4 separate regions of the Homo sapiens genome follow, and regions 2, 3 and 4 are each reported to be linked to region 1. The links are microRNA targets in miRTarBase. Many come from high-throughput screens and were not tested one by one. Region 1 holds a microRNA gene; each other region holds the end of a gene's coding sequence. Distances are between the middles of the regions.
Evidence for each region. Region 1 holds the annotated microRNA hsa-miR-31-5p (AGGCAAGAUGCUGGCAUAGCU, at 1,438-1,458, shown strand). A microRNA usually pairs through its seed, bases 2 to 8, with sites in the 3' UTR of a target mRNA and lowers its output. Matches are read on the target gene's strand: a 7mer-m8 pairs with bases 2 to 8, a 7mer-A1 pairs with bases 2 to 7 and ends in A, and an 8mer does both.

Region 1 (3,162 bases):
GTGGGTGACTGCATATGTGTATATCTAGTACCAGGCTTAGGTAATGCTGGACTTTTGTTTCTGGCAAAGGCAATTGATACTAGAATCATATTTAAAAGAGTATGCTTCTTCCTTATCTATACCTTGGTAGCACTATATAACAAAATGTTTTACCTTTATAGGTTACCTTACACTCCATTTTGGGTAAATAATACGTATTACTTACTAGTTTTTTAATAGAGACATATTAAAGAGGAAAGCAAACATAATTTATAATCCTATCCAATTTTTTTATTTAAAATAATAAATTGCTCATTTATCCTTTAATAAAAAACATGTATGTATGCCCTCCAGGTATGTGTCTGTGTATACATTTTCACTTGCACAAAAGTTATACATAATGTCATTATTCTTATGCCTTACTGTTTTGTAAGGACCACCAAATATTCTGTTGTATAACTATATTATTTATTTAGCCTGTATCAATCATACTGATGAGTGTTCAAGTTGTCTCCAATCTTTTACTATTAAAAACAGTGTTGCAGTGAACATCCTTGGACCTAGAACTTAGTGGTACTTTTGCAAATGTACTTGTGAAATAAGTTTCTAGCTGGGAATTTTTGGCTCAAAAGAGCATTATTTTTGGCAGGGCATGGTGGCTCATGCCTGTAATCCAAACACTTTGGGAAGTGGAGGCAGGAGTATGGCTTGAGTTTAAGGGTTTGAGACCAGCCTGGGCAACATAGCGAGACCTTGTCTCTACTAAAAATACAAAAAAAAAAAAAAAGAGTGATGGCACACACCTGTAGTCCCAGTTGCTTGAGAGGCTAGGGTGGGAGGATTCACCTGAGCCTGGGAGATTGAGGCTGCAGTGAGCTATGGTCGCACCACTGCACTGTATCCTGGATGACAGAGCAAGAATGTCTTTAAAAAAATCCAAAAATAACATTATTTTTAAGAGCACATAAAGCAGTGAACTAACTACACACTGCTGAGCCACAGTTTGTTATTGTTTAAATACATCTGAGTGGCAGAAATTGACCAAGTAAAGTTATTAGAGTAAAAATAAAATTGTACTGAGAGTCACTGGGATATTTTGTGGACTATAAATATGGTGGTAATAGCCTATAATTAACTGTCATCAACTTTAGACATTATTGATTTAATAAAATTTTTGTCACAATTTCATCCCTGTGGTTTCACAAGTAGTCCATAAACATTCTCGAGGTTCATTTTAGATCAAAGACCATTAAAAAAATGGAACTACCCACAAACCTCCTGTGCCTAACTACATCTTCAAAAGCGGACACTCTAAGGAAGACTATGTTGTTATGATCAGAAATAAGTGCGCTTTCAATTAATGAGTGTGTTTTCCCTCCCTCAGGTGAAAGGAAAAATTTTGGAAAAGTAAAACACTGAAGAGTCATAGTATTCTCCTGTAACTTGGAACTGGAGAGGAGGCAAGATGCTGGCATAGCTGTTGAACTGGGAACCTGCTATGCCAACATATTGCCATCTTTCCTGTCTGACAGCAGCCATGGCCACCTGCATGCCAGTCCTTCGTGTATTGCTGTGTATGTGCGCCCTTCCTTGGATGTGGATTTCCATGACATGGCCTTTCTCACCTTCCTTACTTCCTGTCCTGCTATGTATTGTGTCCTACCATGAATTCACTCCATGCTAGCCACATTGGCCTGTATGGCTATTCCTTGGACACACCTAGGATGTTCTTGCCTCTTAGCTTGCCTACCTTTCTCTCATCATTTGGGCCTCAGCGAGGATATCATCTCCTCAGAGAAGCCTTCTGTGACCATGCTATCTAAAATACTCCAGCACTTCAGTCACCCTTTATCCCATTACTCTGCTTTTTCAGAAACATTGGTGCTCCCTGAAACGTATTTGTTTACTTGCTTAGTGTCTTTTCTCCCGCACTACCATGTAAGCTTCTTGAGGGTTAGGGACCTTGTTAGGGATAACCACTGTATCCTTAGAGTGTGACACATAGTAGGTTCTCAATACATATTTTTGAAACTCTACCCTGATGCAAAAGAGATATCAAATAATTATAGTTTTTGCATTATAAATGTCTTTGGTGAAATCCCTGGCACAAAACTAATAATAAAGAAATAAACAGATAATGTTGAGTTCTGGGCCTGCAAACCTAACTCTTTAAAGCAGTCACAGTAAATGTGTCATTGGATCCATAGACTTGTGGAAGTCAGCATATTTTATTGGGAAAAGCATGAGCTTCAAAGTAAAACTTATGGTCAAATCTCATTACTGGTGCGTTCTTAAGTCATTTAACCTCTGAGCCACAGTTTACACAAATGTAAAATTAGAGTAATAATAGTGACTCCATAGGACCCTCAAGATAAGGAAATAAGGTATTTTAGTCAGATGATTCTTATCACATGTCTAAAAATTTAGTGTCTCTAAAATTCTTGATATATGCATACCAGTAGACACTCAACACATTTATTTCACTACTAAGAAAAAAGTTTTCTTTAGTTAGAGACAAGGGATTTTATGTGAAATGTGTGGAAATTCTATGCCAGAACGATAGTACATGTAGAATTCTTTGTAAAGATAGAAATCTTGAGAGACCAAGGAGTTAATTGTCAAGGATCTCAAGTTCTTCTCCTGGTTAGTTCACATTCCTCATCTTCCTTTGTTTCTGGAGTTACTCATTATCTGTAGATCTCTTTTAAAAGTGGTTTTTACACATTCACTTTAAAGAGTAAGAATGTTCAGTAAATACAATTGTATTTTAATGTTTAATAAATACTAATGTTTAATAAATACTGTTTGATGTTTCATGTTTTTAAGCATTGAAGTTTTAATAAAAAGCTTTGCTTTTAATAAATAAAATTTCATGTTAATTTTAATGCTTTTCCAAGAAATAAAGTAGCAGTCACTATTCTCGATTGTCATTATTTATTATTACTCAGGGTATTAAAACATACAGAAAGATCACATTATACCTTCATTTCATGCCTCTTGGAGTATATTAAACTAAGCTGCTAATTTAACAAAAATGTGTAGCACAAAAGTGAGGTAGTTTTAGTCTACAACTTTTATAAGCATCTCTTTATATAAGGATAATTTGTTTAAAGACATCATTGTACAAGCTGATCTTGCCTATGAAGGCTTTTAAGAACTCACAAAACAGCTTTAGCTGAAAAT
Region 2 (3,162 bases), not on the chromosome of region 1:
AGTCTTTCCAGACCCAGTGCACATCCCATCAGCCAGGACACCAGTGTATGTTGGGATGCAAACAGGGAGGCTTATGACATCTAATGTGTTTTCCAGAGTGAAGTGCCTGGCTCCATTCCAAACTCCTGGAAGTGGACTGTGGAACACATTGTCTATAAAGCCTTGCGCTCACACATTCTGCCTCCTAAACATTTCACAGAAGATGGAAATATCCTGCAGCTTGCTAACCTGCCTGATCTATACAAAGTCTTTGAGAGGTGTTAAATATGGTTATTTATGCACTGTGGGATGTGTTCTTCTTTCTCTGTATTCCGATACAAAGTGTTGTATCAAAGTGTGATATACAAAGTGTACCAACATAAGTGTTGGTAGCACTTAAGACTTATACTTGCCTTCTGATAGTATTCCTTTATACACAGTGGATTGATTATAAATAAATAGATGTGTCTTAACATAATTTCTTATTTAATTTTATTATGTATATATTGTGTCAGTTCAGATGCCAAAAAGAGGTCTTGAACATGTCACAGGCTCTGATGGCACTGACCATGGAGAAAGCTTGATTTGATCATCTGGTGTCTACAATAACCAAAGCTAATTATTAAGGAAAAAAACTTGAAGAAAGAAAATAGTCCTTACTTCATCTATAATGAGGTTTTTGTTTTTTTGTTTTGAGACGGAGTCTTGCTTTGTTGCCCAGGCCGGAGTGCAGTGGCGCGATATTGGCTCACTGCAACCTCCGCTTACCGGGTTCAAGCAATTCTCCTGCCTCAGCTTCCTGAGTAGCTGGGATTACAGGCACCTGCCACCACGCCCGGCTAATTTTTGTATTTTTAGTAGAGATGTGGTTTCACGATGCTGGCCAAGCTGGTCTCAAACTCCTGACCTCAGGTGATCCTCCCACCTCAGCCTCCCAAAGTTAAGTGCTGGGATTACAGGCATGAGCCACTGCGGCCGGCATTAAGTATGAGTTTTTAAGTTAGCCCACTTTGTTAATGACTATGAGTACTAATAGCTTAAGATAAAGAAGTTTCTAGGTAATCTTGTTTGAAGGATGATGTAAAAATATAAATTTAAACTGTGAGTGACAAAATAAACTTCCTTAATATTTGCCTACATTTAGAGAAATGGAGCATTCAGCTCAGAAAGGAAGAATGTCTGTGGTTTTAAGGTAAAATCCATATTCCAAGACTCAGTGAAGAAAGTTCAGTGATAAAGAACAGACTACTCTCATCTTATGAAGAAATGGAGCAATTTCACTTGGAAAGACTAGGAAGACAAAATGTTACAGACGTATTTGTTGTGCCACAAAATAGGCAAGGTCAGTTTTGAACAATAAGAACTCCATAAAGTAGACCAGGGCATCTCAGAAGTGAGGTTCCATGAGCCCAGGTGGGGCACAGGCTGGGTGATCTTGAGTGGAGAGGAAGAGGGGTTTTCTGAGCTTCAAGAGCTGGGCCACACAGTGTGTTGGTTTTAGCTGGGATGGAGTTCTAGAACAAACCTGCACTTTAGAACACCTTTCTACCCACCCCCAACCACACAACTTGCTACTATTAGTAAATGTATAGGCTGAGGCACGGTGGCTCATGCCTGTAATCCCAACACTTTGGGAGGCTGAGGCAGGCAGATCACTTGTGGTCAGTAGTTCAAGACCAGCCTGGGCAACATGGTGAAACCCTAACTCTACTAAAAATACAAAAATTAGCAGGGTGTGGTGGCAGACACCTGTAATCCCACCTACTTGGGGGGCTGAGGCAGGAGAATCAAGCTTGAACCCGGAAGGCAGAGGTTGCAGTGAGCCAAGATCATACCACTGCACCCCAGCATGGGTGACAGCACGAGACTGTCTCTCAAAAAAAAAAAAGAGGCCAGGCACAGTGGCCCACACCTCTAATCCCAGCACTTTGGGAGGTTGAGGTGGGCAGATCACTTGAAGTCAGGAGTTCAAGACCAGCCTGGCCAACATGGTGAAACCCCATCTCTACTAAAAATACAAAAATCAGTCGGGTGTGGTGGTGCACACCTGTAGTCCCAGCTCCTCGGGAGGCTGAGGCAGAAGAATCACCTGAACCTGGGAGGCAGAGGTTGCAGTGAGCCGAGATCGTGCCACTGCACTCCAGCCTGGGTGACTGAGCGAAACTCTGTCTCAAAAAAAAAAGAAAGAAAATGTATAGAAAATCATCTCAATTCAGAAGATTGGTATCCATATTTTTTAAATGAAGGGCTAATTAAAAAAGGAACAAATATTAGAGATTTTATTCACTTTTGAGTTACCTTTTTAAAGTCTAGTTTTATTATCTTATGTGCCTTTAGTCACTAGATTTTCCCCCAATATATTTTCTGTGTAAGCACTTTAAAGATACAATAATCATTTCTATAAAACCACCTGGGTACTAAGAGCAAAAGAGAATCATAAATTCTGCAAAGTAGTTGCACTCCATGATTTTAAAAAAACCTCTTGGACAGGGTACCTCTAAAGGTGAAACTCAAGTCTTTAAAAGTTCTACATTCCAGATTGTTTTTCCTTGAGAAGGAGACAAAAGAAGAGGGATGTGGTTGCCATGATTTGTTTTAAAGTCTCCTATAACAAAATGAACATGTCAGTAGCCAATTGTGGTTGGCAAAAGGGTGTATTTAATAGAATCTGCAGGCAGATTTCCAATCTGCCTGCCCTGCCCTACCCTCCCCCTTTGGGTTTGTTTGAGGTTTCATTCCACAAATAAGCAGCAGATAAAATACTTTACAAGGTACAGCACAGTTGTATTGAAGAAAAAAAGGACCCAACTCTTACTTTAGGAGTATTAGGCCTGGACTTCCCCTGCCCCATGCAATAAAGCAAGTTTTATATACACTCCCCATATTTTTTTCTAACATTTTCTTATATAAATTTAAATATTTTACAAAAAAAGGCTTTTTTCCTCCAAACATATAAATCTGAGTGAAACATAGATTCCCCACCCGAGAACTTGTTTCTTCACTAAAATATAAATGTTGTCTGATATTAAGGGTAAATGTCTTTTGACCACTGGAGATCACTGAAGTCTGAATTGCACCGTGGAGAAGGCACTTGTGTTTTCTGAGGTCTCCAGCAAGTATCTCAGTGAGCACTCATAGAATTGCTGTCTGTCCTCCAGAACCCGTGCCAAGGCCTCCGAGTGC
Region 3 (3,000 bases), not on the chromosome of region 1:
GAGCCACAGCACCTGGCCAGTACATGTTTTTTATGAGTGCCGGTTCTTACGGTATGTTCACGTAGAGACTGAAGGCTATAAAAACTTTCCTTACCACTAGAACATGTAATTGGTAGCCTTTCAGAGATTTATCCGTATTACGGTTCTTGATTTGTAGACGTATATATAACATTCACCTAATGTTTTGTGTTCTTTTTTCCCTGCAGATGCTGTACCCCTCAAGGATTTAAACTAACGAAAAATCAATAAATAAATGTGGATTTGTGCTCTTGTATTTTTAAGTGGATTAAAAAACTTACTACCTTAAATTGATTTGCTACATGCTTAAAATGATAGAGGTTGCTCAGCATTTTTGGAGTACAAGGGGGTCAGAGAGACATGTGATGAAAATTACAGGGCGAGTACAGAGATTTAGAAGGGAACGGGTTTTAATGCGAGTATCTTTGACAGAGTCTTGCTCTGTTGCCCATGCTGGAGTGTAGTGGTGCTCGCTGCAGCCTCACATTCAAAGGCTCAAGCAATCCTCCCTTGGCCTTTGAAGTAGCTGGGACCACAGGCTCATGCCACCATCCCTGGGTCATTTTTAAATTTTTTGTAGAGAGGGTCTGACTCTTGCCTATGCTGGCTTCAAACTCCTGGGCTCAAGCAATCCTCCTTCCTTGGCCTCTCCTGAAGTGCTGGGATACAGTTATGAGCCACCACACCTGCCAAGTGCTTTGTGATACTATGCATTTGTTCAATGCAGATTGGGAAACTTAAAATTTGAATGGAGATTATGTTGATGGGCTTTGGCAGTTCATTTGGATAGACTGGGATGAGAAGCTCTTGGGACTTGTGACTGGACAAAGCATTCCAGTATATTAAAATAAAATTAAGCCATATTACTCCACTCATAAAAAGCAATCCTATGGTAGGTACATGGAGGTTGGGAATAGTGCACGGAAAGGTGGCAGCTTTCTTTGGCTTCATGTTTTAATCTGGTAAAGTTCAAGATTGCACTTTAAGCAGGCCTCCTAAATATTTTAGATTTCTTGGGGATATGCTAAAATAAAACAACTAAGGCATCAGTTTTGCTGTATGGTTTTTTTTTTTTTTTTGAAGACAAGGTCTTGTTTTGTTGCTTGGGCTGGAGTGCAGTGGCGTGATTACAGCTTACTGCAACCTCAACCTCAACCTCCTCGGCTCAGGCAAACCTCCTGCCTCAGCCTCCTAAATAGCTGGGGCCACAGGCATGTGCAGCCACAACCAGTTAACTTTTTAGTTATTTGTGGAGATGGGCCTCACTATGTTGCCCAGGTAGTACTACATTTCTAACTGATGCAGTAACAGTCTTTTTGTCTGCCCCCTGAGGGTTACTGATCTCTACAGCACAGGTAGTTTTTTAAATTAACATCTTTAAATTGCACTGAAAATGTCAACAAGAAACTGGGAGTTTGCCACCTAAGCCCTTTTGCAGTTTTGCAGCGTGTATGGGTTCTCTTGTCTATGCTGCAAAAGAATTAACATGCTGGAAATGTATTAGGATAAGAGGGTGAAAGAAAGGATTGGGTAGGAAAAGCACACTGGCTGTTGTGTTATTTGGTCTTCCATCTCCTGGAGACAGGACTGAGAAGGAAAGTTTTTGTAGTAAGGGAAAAGAGTGGGAATACTGTCCAGCTTTCCCACTTCCCCTTCCTCCAGTAACATCCTGTTACAAATCTGCTAACCTACAAAGAGGGTAGTGAGATATACTGACCCAAGAGAAAGCAAGACGCCCTCCCCCAGAGGTCCCTCTGTCACACTGGCAGTTCTAAGAAAGGTTTGGTCAGTCCAATGGTGGTATGCAAGCCAAAGCTGCCATTGTTGGAGTCCCGTGCTTCGTGGACATGGGCTTGTGTTAGTACTCTGCCAGGCTCATTTATTAGGATTGTGGTGGTTTTTTTTTTTTTTTTTTTGAGACAGTCTTGCTCTGTCGTCTAGGCTGGAGTGCAGTGGCGCAATCTTGGCTCACTGCACGCTCCGCCTCCCGGGTTCACGCCATTCTGTCTCAGCCTCCCAGGATTGTGGTTTTAAGGCAAACAAAGTGCACTGATGCTGTATTCACCAGAAGTGAGCAGTACTTCAAGGCCGGAAGTTGGAAGTTGTATATTAGAATGCTAATGAAATTGAACTTGGGAATTACGCAGTCAGCGCGAGGAAGTGCTGATCTTGGACACCCACTCCAAAAGGCCAACATAAGCTAAAAGTACCTACTGTGTTCATTGTGCCAGTTAAGTAGATGTGATCAGTAGTACTCGGGGTATTCAGGGATAGAGGCATGTAGGTATACTGGCTGCGTAACATAAAACCGTAAAGTGTAGAGGAAGAAATAGGGCGGCATCTCAAAGAGGAAATGGCAGGAAGATTTTAGGAACACAAGTGGCTGACTGGAAAGTCCAGAAAACTAAAATGCCACATGAGAGGTCTCCTGTACTGAACTGAGGATCTTAGGCTTAAGATTGTTCTTGAGTGTAATACAACGTCACTGAAGAACTTGATTCACAGGAAATTTTAAAATTTACTCATTTGAGACAGGGTTTCTGTTGCCCAGCCTGTAGTGCAGTGGTGTGATCATAGCTCACTGCACCTTTGAACTTCTAGGCTCAGACAATCCCCTGCCCACAACCTCCAGAGAATCTGGTGCATGCCAGGCACGTCCAGCCAATTAAAATGTTTTTTCGGGGTCCCAGGCTGGTCTCGATTCCTGGCCTCAAGTGATCCCCCTGCCTTGTTCTCCTAAAGTACTGGGATTACAGATATGAGCCACCAGCTCAGATTATTTCAAATCCCAATGGCATCCCAGCATAAACAAGGGAAAATTAGGTGGGCTTTTCAGTCTCAAATGGAGAATTCTAACATGTTTCTGGCTTTGGGGGCTGGATGGATAATGGTGCATTTACAAAGTTGGGGAATCAGGAGATGGTTTTGTGGGAGGAGCTAAAGTTGAATTTGAGGAAGCTGTAAGATGTTAACCTGTGGACA
Region 4 (3,162 bases), 21 Mb from region 1:
CCTCCCCGCGCCTCCCGGCCCTTCGCGCTCGGCGCCAGCTCTTTGGCTCCCTTCCCTGCGCAGCTCTAGGCTTAGCTCTCAGCCATTTCTCAAGAAGACGATCCCGAGGGTCGAAGGCCGCCCTTGACCCTTGACCACGGACTCTCCGTGTAACTCGGAAGAGCCGTGATTTTAAAACCCGGCCTCGGGGTTACAGAAGCCCGAGATCTGGGAGGCGTCCGGGACCTCCCTCCCAGAACCGCAGGGACCCGGCCTGGGATCCAGGGTGTGGCCTCTCGCTCTGCGCGGTCGGGAAGGCGGCCGGGTCCGGTCACCGCGCCAAGCACTGCGCACCCCTGGGACGCGTCGTTGCGGGGGGCTGGGGGGCTGGGGCGCCTCCACGACGCCTGGTCTGCCCGGCCAGTGCTTGGTGTCGTTGGTGGGTTCGTGGCTGCGACGGGTAAACGTCCGTTCCGCGAGCCGGGCAAGGCAACCCCTGCGGGTCGCGCCCGAAGGCCGGACCCCTCCAAGCCGCCTGGGAGCTTCCAAACAGGTGGACCCGAAGCTCCTGTTTGATCGGAGAATAACGTTCAATTTACTCCGCCGCTGAACTGATGGTTTAAATATTCATCTTTGGATATGGTTTCACATTAGGCAAAAGTTAGGAGCTTGGAGGCGGTTCCGGGAAGGGGCCTGACCCTCAGTCACCCACGTTCGTAGCCGGGTGATCTGCCCTCGGGCAAGAGAAGGAAGATGATTGGGAGGGTGCCAAGAAAGCCTGGAGAAAGTCCCTTCTGGGTTCAGCGGCTGTAGCCGCTCTCCCAGGACGTTTGTTGGCAATAAATGAAGGAAGGTCGGCCCGGAGACGTTTTCGCACAACGGACAGAGGGGAGTTGGAGCGTAAACCAGCGAGAAGCTGGCATGACATAGGATCCCTCTATTCTCAGTTTGTTTCCAAACTCTTAGACTGCCCCAGCCCTGCCGGATTTGCTAAAAGTGGTCTCTTCTGGACGCCGGTGGGGCTATGGGGCTGACGGCTGCCTGTGCAAAGAAGAGGGAAGAATTGGAAGCTGGGGTCTGGGCAGCTACCAAAGATGGGGCTTGGGAACTTTTCAGAACGTCCTCAGAACCGCAGGAGCCAAGAGGAAATCTCCCGTAGGGGATCTCAGGTAGGGCATGCCAAGAAATTCCAAGAGACGGGATGGAGAAGAGAAGCCGGAGAAAAATCGGCCAATTAGACTCCTGTAAAAATGTGTCTCCATGTTTGTCCTCCCTCCTGAAATAAGAAATTCATAGCTGGGGGTGGGGAGTAGATGGGGGCTGGGGGAAAAACTTTCTCACATTCACAGAGCAGCTTCCCTCAAAGCGGCACGGAATCGGGAACCCCACTCGGGACAGGGGAAAACGGCCAAGTTCCTAGAAATTTGTTTTCTTTGTGGGGAGCAATTCATGATGGGCGTTCTTGTCTGGTTTCCCCCCACTCCGTCCCCTGACGCCGAGTAACACTTAAACCTTTCTAGTTGCAAAGTCTTTTCAGAGTTTTTTTTTTAGGAAATAAGTTTTGAAAATTCTAGTGCTTAAAAAATGTGTATATATATATATATATATATATATATATATATATATATATATATATATATATATGTATATTTATAGCCTTTTATTTTCCCTGAGTACATGTTGGCCACTACATTCCAAATTGATCTCAAATGGTTTTCCAGCTTGTTGGGGGGTGAGGAAAAATAAATGGAGAATATATTTACATGCCCTCCTATTCATTCTTTTAGAAGTCTCATAAATAGTAAATTTCCTATTTTAAAAGCCAGGACATTTTCAACCTCAAATATTTGGAATTTTTAAAGGCCATATTAAAATGGATTACTTCTGCTATCTATAATAAATATGAATTGTGAAAATAAATTGAGGGAAAATAATGTAGGTTTTAAAAAGTTCCATTTAGAAAGGGAAGAATGAGACGTAATAGAAAATAAACGATGTAGTGTAGTGACTTAGCATTTTATTTCGTCTATATAACTAGGCTTAATTTTAACACCTTAATTTTAACATTAAAGATGGCACGTCAGACACACAGATAAGAAATCAATGTTCTGAAATTAATATCCTACTTACATTAAACATCCCTATCAGGAAGACACAGAGAGTAGAAGCATTTTGCACTAGACTTAGGAATAATACTTCCAGTTCCAAGGAAGTGAAGAAGGGGGAACATGTTTGGCATCGGAGGCTGTGTTTTTGTTTGCTTGCTTGTTTTTCTTTTAATGCCAGAACAAAATACCCCACTCACGTTCATAGTACCCCAGGACATGTGCAAATCGGGAAAGCCACAGAAGCCACAACCGAAGGCAAGAAAAGATGACTTGACGCCCTGCGAAGGTTACGTTCAGGTGGTTTTTAGAGGAACGTAATCCAGCTGTTTCTTTCTAACCATTTTGCAGGGAACAGAAGTTCGTGTTTGCTCTCCAGCGGGATTCAGATGCACACGCCCAGTATGGGCCGCGCAAGGTGGAGTGAGCAGCTGCGGGTCGCTCCCCACTCCCACCTGGCTCTAGGAGGGCCCTGCGGACTCGGCCAGGGAACTGGGCGTGGGCGATACTAAAAAAACTGGTGAGGTCCCCTCTCCGCCCAAAGGGGCGGCCAGCGATGTCAGCCCAGAGCCCTCTGCCACCGCCTGATACCGCAGCAGCGCCGACGCGGCCGACAGGTGCCCGCCCAGCACCGCGCCCTTGGTGGGAGCGCAGCCGTTGGCGCAGTCCTCCTCCTGATGCCGCTGCTGTTGCTGCAAAATTGTCCGACAGGCTTGACGGTCGCTGGAGCAGGGGGCAGTAGCTCCACGCGGTCGGGGACAAACTCTGCGCAGCCCCTGTACCCGCTCCCCTGACCCCTTGCATGATACTCTCAATGCTGAAAGAGATGCATCCGCCTCCCGGTGGCGACGCCAGACCCTTGCCCTCCTCCCAAGGCTGAGGACCAAGTGAGGGCTGCAGCACGGGAAGGGTGCCGGGGTCGCCAGGTCCGCGCCTTCTGCTTTCTTCGGTGCCCCGGCATAGGCGGGGGCCGAGAGCAGTAGGTAGCGAGGAGGATGCGGGTGCAGCAGAGCGTAAGGGCGTCTCCCGGGGCCGGTGTTGGGGTAGGCCCCCGGGACTGGCTGCGGCGGGGCAGGGG

Region 2: miRTarBase lists MLH1 as a target of hsa-miR-31-5p. The part of its 3' UTR that is shown has no 7-base or 8-base seed match.
Region 3: the mRNA of RPL35A is a reported target of hsa-miR-31-5p. Seed matches in the 3' UTR shown: 7mer-m8 at 611-617.
Region 4: miRTarBase lists FOXD4 as a target of hsa-miR-31-5p. Seed matches in the 3' UTR shown: 7mer-m8 at 2,342-2,348.

Annotation. Positions count from the first base shown.
Region 1 is chr9:21,510,454-21,513,615 of GRCh38, reverse strand. MIR31 (microRNA 31) reads left to right here and starts at 1,431; the gene lies at 1,431-1,501. The region is part of intron 1 of MIR31HG (MIR31 host gene); the gene reads left to right.
Region 2 is chr3:37,050,390-37,053,551 of GRCh38, forward strand. MLH1 (mutL homolog 1) reads left to right here. Exons shown (of 19, transcript NM_000249.4): 19 at 97-457. The coding sequence ends at 264. It overlaps LRRFIP2 (LRR binding FLII interacting protein 2), which reads right to left. Exons shown (of 28, transcript NM_006309.4): 28 at 2,237-3,162. Among named protein-coding and RNA genes, the nearest start is that of MLH1, 58 kb to the left of the region's middle.
Region 3 is chr3:197,955,544-197,958,543 of GRCh38, forward strand. RPL35A (ribosomal protein L35a) reads left to right here. Exons shown (of 5, transcript NM_000996.4): 5 at 207-1,067. The coding sequence ends at 230. The region is part of intron 2 of DRC9 (dynein regulatory complex subunit 9); the gene reads right to left. Among named protein-coding and RNA genes, the nearest start is that of DRC9, 2.9 kb to the right of the region's middle.
Region 4 is chr9:114,255-117,416 of GRCh38, forward strand. FOXD4 (forkhead box D4) reads right to left here. Exons shown (of 1, transcript NM_207305.5): 1 at 1,977-3,162. The coding sequence ends at 2,546. Among named protein-coding and RNA genes, the nearest start is that of LINC01388, 2.0 kb to the left of the region's middle. RefSeq lists enhancers at 293-899, 2,671-3,162.